Linked DNA regions of Homo sapiens. The protein of the gene in region 1 interacts with the protein of each later gene in a biochemical or structural test. Each region holds a gene or a part of one and is shown in the gene's direction. Other genes may lie near its edges. The genes, in order: ARHGEF7 and PAK2.

What was found.
Region 2: the proteins of ARHGEF7 (region 1) and PAK2 form a complex in vitro, tested with the Homo sapiens proteins (one study listed by BioGRID).

What each region holds. Positions count from the first base shown.
Region 1 is NC_000013.11:111,279,170-111,282,992, forward strand, and holds part of ARHGEF7 (rho guanine nucleotide exchange factor 7), read left to right. Parts: intron 1-1,102; coding exon 1,103-1,181; intron 1,182-1,368; coding exon 1,369-1,508; coding exon of another isoform or gene 1,509-1,565; exon of another isoform or gene 1,566-1,955; intron 1,956-3,823. UniProt on the Homo sapiens protein: Acts as a RAC1 guanine nucleotide exchange factor (GEF) and can induce membrane ruffling. Functions in cell migration, attachment and cell spreading. Promotes targeting of RAC1 to focal adhesions. May function as a positive regulator of apoptosis.
Region 2 is NC_000003.12:196,802,126-196,805,948, forward strand, and holds part of PAK2 (serine/threonine-protein kinase PAK 2), read left to right. Parts: intron 1-891; coding exon 892-1,039; intron 1,040-3,226; coding exon 3,227-3,258; intron 3,259-3,823. UniProt on the Homo sapiens protein: Serine/threonine protein kinase that plays a role in a variety of different signaling pathways including cytoskeleton regulation, cell motility, cell cycle progression, apoptosis or proliferation.

The sequences.
Region 1 (3,823 bases):
AATCTTGGAAAGGAGTTCACAGTGTGTAGCATTTTTTAAATACGCTTGGCCACAGAAGTGTCCAGCAGTCTCCTCTTCCACCGGCCATGCTTTAGGATGAGATTTCTCAGCCTGGGCACTGCTGACGTTCTGGACTGGATCGTTCATGGCCAGGGGCTGGGGGTCTCGGTGAGACTGTCCTGGGCACTGTAGGGTATCAGCAGCCTCTCTGGCCCTTACTTGCTGGAGGTCTGAGCCCCTGCCAGGTTGTGGCACTGCCACCCATTCTCTGTGGGGGCACGTTCCCCACACCAGTTGAGCAGCACTCCGTCTGGAGGTGCTTATGTAGAATCCTGCTCCGCAGCTGATGGAGTGCTCCCCAGGCAGCGCTGCCCAGACGCCCACTGCCTCTTCCTGCGGACTTGGTGGGCCACCATGTACTGTGGTTTCTGTCAGCTGTGCCAGGATGTTTTGTGTTCACTTCTGACTTGTTTGTAATGATCACTTTGTACCCCCTTTCTGGTATCTTTCCATTGACATTTCCTGGTGCAGTTACCGATTTCTTCTGTTTTCAGGGAGCACTGGTTTGCCAACCATTTTGTGCATTGTGTGCAGCATTTAGCACAACTACTTATTTTCTGTTTTACAAAGTAGAATGTTATGAAATTCTTGTTCTTGCCTCAATTTCCCACCCTTATTTTGACTTTAAACTTGGAACTTCCTCTGCATTTCTTTACGAGGAAAATACATGGTTCTTTTCTGCAAAAACATCATTTAAAACAACTGTTATACACGGTAGTTTTTTAAAAATCATAATGTGTGATGTCTTTTGTCCTGGTGTCTATGTTTAGTAGCAGCTCATCAGATACAGTGTGTGTTTGGGCTTGTCACTCTGTCCCTTGTCGCCAGTTGAGTTTCTTGCTTACAGTACAGTATTATAATTTATTATTTGAGATAAAAATTTTTGTATTATACACACATCTGCTACAAATGAGCTTTTTTTGGTTCACAAACACAGTTCCTCCACCAATTCTAAAATCATTTAATATTGACTTTAATAATGGTACCTTTTTCTAGAAAAGCACTAATTGTTTTTTTTTTTGTGGGGGGGGGTCTTTTTTAGGGAAAGCTTCCAACGACAGGAATGACAATCACAAAGCTTGAGGACAGTGAAAATCATAGAAATGCATTTGAAATATCAGGTGATAGGCACAAGCTGTGTGAGTGCTGTGTCTCGGGGAGGAGAGGCAGCTTGTCCCCGCGTGCAGATTCTTGCTTGCGTATTTCAGAAGGTGGTGTTTAAGCGCTGAGTGGAATTCTGGGGGGTGTGCACGCACGTGCTTTTTACCTGTGTTTCCACTCGGCCTATTTTTTCCTTCTCTCCTATAGGGAGCATGATTGAGCGGATATTAGTGTCGTGCAACAACCAGCAGGATCTGCAGGAATGGGTGGAGCACCTACAGAAGCAAACGAAGGTCACGTCTGTGGGAAACCCCACCATAAAGCCTCATTCAGTGCCATCTCATACCGTAAGGACTTGGTGCTTCTCCTCCTTCCAGACTCCAGGCGTGGCATCCCGTGGCTGAGCTGTCAGCAAGTGATCAGTTGCTTTAAAACCTAATCAATATTTGGATAAAAAGTGCAAAACACTTGCTTCACATTTCTCTGCAGATCTTTGGCCCTCTTCGTGCAGTAGTGAATTGTTTTCCAATGAGTGTTCTCGAGAAACAACCCTGAATTGTGCCTCCTCACGCACAGTTCAGAGGTGCTTGGGTGGGAAGCTGCTTCTGCTCCGTGTGGCCCTAGAAGACTGATTTAGGGGAGTTTTACACTCAACTATAGATGATTTTTCTGAGAATTTTAACTGTTTATTATGCTTCATTTAAGAAAACAAAAAATAAATGATTATGATGATGAAAAGGGCCAGACTCATGTTGAAGGCATTAAAAGAATTTATGACACACTGTTGATTTTAAGAAATTGAGGTGTCTTTTACTTAGAAAAGCTCAACAAGTCTTTGGATATTTAGAGACTTTTTTTTTTTTTTTTTTTTTTTTTTTTACAACTTTTCAGAATAGATGAACACTGAAGCTTCAGTGTTTAAACCTCTCCTGGTGTTTTGTGCTCAAGAAGTTGGTATCGGGTTGTTTTAACAGTCGTCATCTTTATCAAGTAATACGGAAAAACTGGGCAGAGCTTTTAAAGAATGAATGACGATGACACAGGCGTTTTCTGCTTACAGATTTCCTCACATCCTTATTAGGCTATTAGGATCAGCTCTGTCGTGTGCTCAGTTTTCATGTTTTCTTCTTCATGTGAAGGTTGTAGCTCAAGAAGGATTGCTGTACTCTGATATTCTCATCAGAGTTTCAGAGTCCATCTGATTTCTTTCAGCAGTAAAGATTGTAACTACTCATTGGCTTTTAGCTAGCATTTCATTTTTAATGGCTCTACCATTTTAAAATTCTCCATTCTTTCATGGAGATCAGTTTATCCCAGGGACGTGTGTGTACACGTGTGTTTATAAAGAACAGTGGATGAGCTGCTTCACTCAGGTTTTCAACAGCAGCCTGAAACTCTACTTCATACAATTTTATATCAAGTCAGCTTTTCTCTGTGGCCAGACCCTCCGTCTTAGTGTTTCTTTCACTGGTGGCTGGGAAGGCATCCCTTCAGCGGGGAAGGCACTGTGCCTCATGTTTAAAATGTTCTGCATTCTCCTACAGAGTTTCTTGTGTGGGATGATGTATTCTGTGATCCAACTCTGACCAGCTGAAATCATTTTCTAATTTTAGCATAAAGCATACTTCCTTTGACTTTTTCAAGAAAGGAGAAACAAAACCAGACACTGCTTTGACGTTGTTGCTAGAAGGGATGTCTTACATAATTTTATCCATCTATACATTATTTCCTATGAAAAGATGACCTTACAGTGGCTTCATAGCATGACCTGCATCTCACACAATTCCCTCCCCCATGCAGGGACTAGAATGTGATCGTTGCAGGAAGTTGATGGCTTCTATTCTTGAAATTGTGGCATTAGCTGCCGTCCCTCTCAGCCTGTGTTTTGAAGGTCGCGCACTTCCTCAGAATGCCGGCCCCACTCCGTTTCCAGTTCACAGCGCCACACAGCTTGTTCTCCCATTAAATGCACCTTACTATTGTTGGCTAATTTGAGGTCATTATTGGCTGATTTTGAGAATGACTTATTTAACTTTTCTCATTTAACTGTCATTGTGATGGAATATTTTGGGTTTTCCAGGAATATAAAATGCATTAATGGCACACCGCTCTAAGAAGTTAATTTTTGATTAACTTTGTTTTGATTAAAGTTGAGTTTTCTAAGAACATAATTGGTTTTAATACCAGGGTTTGGCAGTGTTCAGTAAAGATCCAGATGGTAAACGTTCTCTGCTTTACAGGTTCAGGCCTCTTGCAGCTGTACTCTGCCCTTGGAACACAACAGCAGTTTTAGACAGGCACAGGCCTGCCTGTGTGCCAGGAAAACTTTTTTAAAAAACAAAACTAGGCGATCAGGCCTTAGTTTCGCCCAGTACTTTATCACCAGGTGAAGAATAATACGTGGCTGGGGGGGAATCACCTTCCTTCTTACAGCCACATGCCCTGTGTGCTTTTGTGAAATTCTCATCTTTTTACTAGATGAAGTACCTTTTTTCTATAAATGTTACTCCGTAGCTAATAAATGTGGCTAGTGGATGTCTTTTGAGTGCTGGGGCCCCAGCTAGAGCTGCCCCTCCTGTCTGGGGCAGACGCCGTGAGGAGCCCCACGCTCGGCCCAGGTGGCGCGAGCTAGTGTTTGGCCCCAAAAACTGACTGCTGAGAG
Region 2 (3,823 bases), on another chromosome or scaffold:
CGGTGGCACACGCCTGTAATCCCAGCACTTTGGGAGGCCAAGGCTGGCAGATCATTTGAGGTCAGGAGTTCGAGACCAGTGTGGCCAACATGGTGAAACCCCATCCCTACTAAAAATACAAGAAAATTAGCCAAGCGTGGGGGTGTATGCCTGTAATTCCAACTACTCAGGAGGCTGAGGCAGGGGAATCATTTGAACCTCGGAGATGGAGGTTGCAGTGAACAGAGACTGTGCCATTGCACTCCAGCCTGGGCAAGAAGAGTGAAACTCCGTCTCAAAAAAAGGGAAATTAACATTTCTATCTATACGTTAACTATGAATTCTTACTGCTTTTTGCTTTTTATAAAAGTGTTAGTGGTTGGATATATCGTTTTCCTAGAGAGCAGAGCCTATTAATTATAGTTATGCAAAACAGACTTAGAAAAAATAGACCTAGGCCGGGCGCGGTGGCTCACGCCTGTGTAATCCCAGCACTTTGGGAGGCCGAGGCGGGTGGATCACGAGGTCAGGAGATTGAAACTATCCTGGCTAACATGGTGAAACCCCGTCTCTACTAAAAATACAAAAAATTAGCCAGGCGTGGTGGCGGGCACCTGTAGTCCCAGCCACTCTGGAGGCTGAGGCAGGAGAATGGCCTGAACCCGGGAGGTGGAGCTTGCAGTGAGCCGAGATCTCGCACGACTGCACTCCAGCCTGGGTGACAGAGTGAGACTCTGTCTCAAAAAAAGAAAAAAGAAAAAATAGACCTTTAGAAAATGAGATCTTTTAAAATTTACTCAAACCTACACTCAAAAGATTGGTTTGTTTTGTGTATTTTGTCATTTATCTCTGGAAATTAATTTTATTGCATCAATTTAAACCATAACTAATTTCTGAATATCTTCTTGTTAGGGCATGCCAGAACAGTGGGCTCGATTACTACAGACCTCCAATATCACCAAACTAGAGCAAAAGAAGAATCCTCAGGCTGTGCTGGATGTCCTAAAGTTCTACGACTCCAACACAGTGAAGCAGAAATATCTGAGCTTTACTCCTCCTGGTAAGAGAGTGGCATAAGGCTGGATCAGATGGAGATTTGTGAAGCACTTCTAGATAAAAAGATTACTCCTGGAAAAATGAAAAGCTAAACTATGGTTCTTGTTGATAACGGTTTTTCCCTGGATAGATTCTACCTTTTGTAGACTGATCCAGGGCAGTTCTGAAGCATAATTTGGATCTGTGAATTATAGTAATCTCATAGGTTTGCCAGAAACGGGAGTTGATGGATATTTTGGCTTTTTGTTTATTTGGTTTTTTCTCCTCATTGCTGTGTTTTTGTTTTCATTTTTCACTCTTCACTGCTTTTAAATGACTTCCAGCAATCAAAGGAAAAGACGCTGGTTGATAGACATGTTCATACTAGAAACACATTTATTGTTAGCGGGACAAGAGGAGGTTGAACTAAAAAATGTTTAGGTCCACTCAAAAAATTGAAACTCGCAAGTGTGCAGATAATAGAATATATGTATTTTAATATATAAAACAGATAAATCATATACGAAAGAAGCGTTAGAACTAAAAGGATTTATACCTCAGAAATGGAATATCTGGAATATCATCTACATAGTCACAGTAATGCAAATTTTACTTTCTGGATGAATATAGCTGGATGGAAATGGGGTTTGATGTACTTTGTTTTCCAAGTTGCTCAGTATCTGAGATATACCGTTAACCTATGAGAGAACCAGTGAATTGGTATATAGTGTAAGAGTTGGTGTAGTGGATTTTTAAAAATAGTTTTTGTTCAAATAAAGATCAGAATAAAGTTCATACAACGCAGTTGGTTGATACATCTCTTGAATCTCTTTTGATCTTTAGGCTTCCCCTCCCACACACTGGTTCATGCTGTCTTTTCTTGACGTTTATTTATTACAGAAACAAGATCATTTGTCCTGTTTCCCTCAGTTTAGATTTTGCTCACTACATCCTCAGGATGTCATTTTTCAATATGTTTGTCTGTCTCTGAAGTCATACATGTGGTTTTCAAAAGCAATATGATGGAGCTAAAATCGTACATGTGGTTTTAATTGATTTTACTTACTGTTTGCATCCTCACAGAAACAAAGGCCATGTGCAAGGGAGAAATAGAAATCTTTTTCAAGTGATCTTGACCTTTTTTTGTTGAGTCTAGTACACCGTTAGGAAAAGGTCACACTTGCTCCTAGAACTTTTCTATCAACCAGTAAGTCTGTGTGTAAATTAGTAATTTTTTTGAAAAACCAATGTTTGACCACAAAATGGTAGCTTATTTTCACCTAGTACACATACATACATATATGTGTGTGCGCACGCGCGTGCGTGTGTGTGTTTTGTTTTGTTTTTGAGCTGGAGTTTACTCTGTTGCCCAGGCTGGAGTGCAGTGGCACAATCTCGGCTTGCCAGAACCCCCGCCTCCCGGGTTCAAGCAATTCTCCTGCCTCAGCCTCCTGAGTAGCTGAGATTACAAGCATGCGCCGCCACACCTGGCTAATTTTGTATTTTTAGTAGAGACTGGGTTTCTCCATGTTGGTCAGGCTGGTCTTGAACTCCCAACCTCAGGTGATCTGCCTGTCTCTCGGCCTCCCAAAGTGCTAGGATTACAGGCATGAGCCACCGCGCCCGGCCTGTGCGTATGTAATATGTGATATGTGTGTGTGTGTGTGATATATATATATATATATACACATATATATATATATATACACACACACATATACACACACACACACATATATGTATGTCTCTGGGCATTTTTAAAAGAAAAACAAAACAATGTCAGAATTTTACTTTGCACAATTGTCATTGTCTTAATTGTTGCATTAAGTTCCTCAGTCAGCAGTTTTCTGGAGAAAGTATCTTTATCAATAAATTTGTTTTGTTTTAATAAATACAGATTGATAGGTATACTTTCAAACTAAATTTTGATAGCTTTATTGAGGTATAATTTACATGCAATACAATTCACCCATTTTAAATATATAATTCACTGATTTTTACTAAATTTATAGTTTCATGTAGATTTCAGATTTCTTACCTTGGTCTTATATAAATTCTTATTTGACTACTTGCGTGTTCATTTTTCTCAAGAGTTAATTCAACTTGAAATCAGTTTAAGAACATTTCACTTTCTCTGCTTTTTTTTTTTCCTTTTATCATATAAAAGTGCTGTTTCTTGAATTGCTAATGTTATGTTTTGTTTCATATTCAGAGAAAGATGGCTTTCCTTCTGGAACACCAGCAGTAAGTTAATTATATTATTTCTTGTATCTCTTGTTCTAATTTAGGTTACCCAAGACAAATCTCAGTTTTTATTTTGCTTTCTAAAATAAATTACAGCCATCAGAGGTAAATAACTACTCAATAGGTGTTTTTAGCTAGCCACCTGATTAGTTGAAGAAGCCGTATTAAATAGAAATTCCTTGATGTGATACTTAATGTAACTAAAATTTATAATGACCTTCAGAACAGTTTAGTTAGTTTTGGTAATGTTAACATATACAAACGTGAACACAAAGAACTTGCTAGCATATATTTTCCTCTCCATCCCTCAGTTTTCCTTCTGGTACTATTTTACTGAATATAGACTGTGGAAAGGTGCTGAACAGTTGAACCTTGTCAGTCTTCAGAGTCATCTGAAACTTAAGTTATCGCATAAACACAGTCAGTTTTTGGAAACAGTCGTTTTATTTGCAGTTTCTCAATTGGGAGGAAACAGTCTCCTGGAGTTTTATTTTTTTATATTTTATTTTATTTTATTTATTTATTTATTTTATTTTTATTTTTTTTGAGTTAGAGTCTCGCTCTG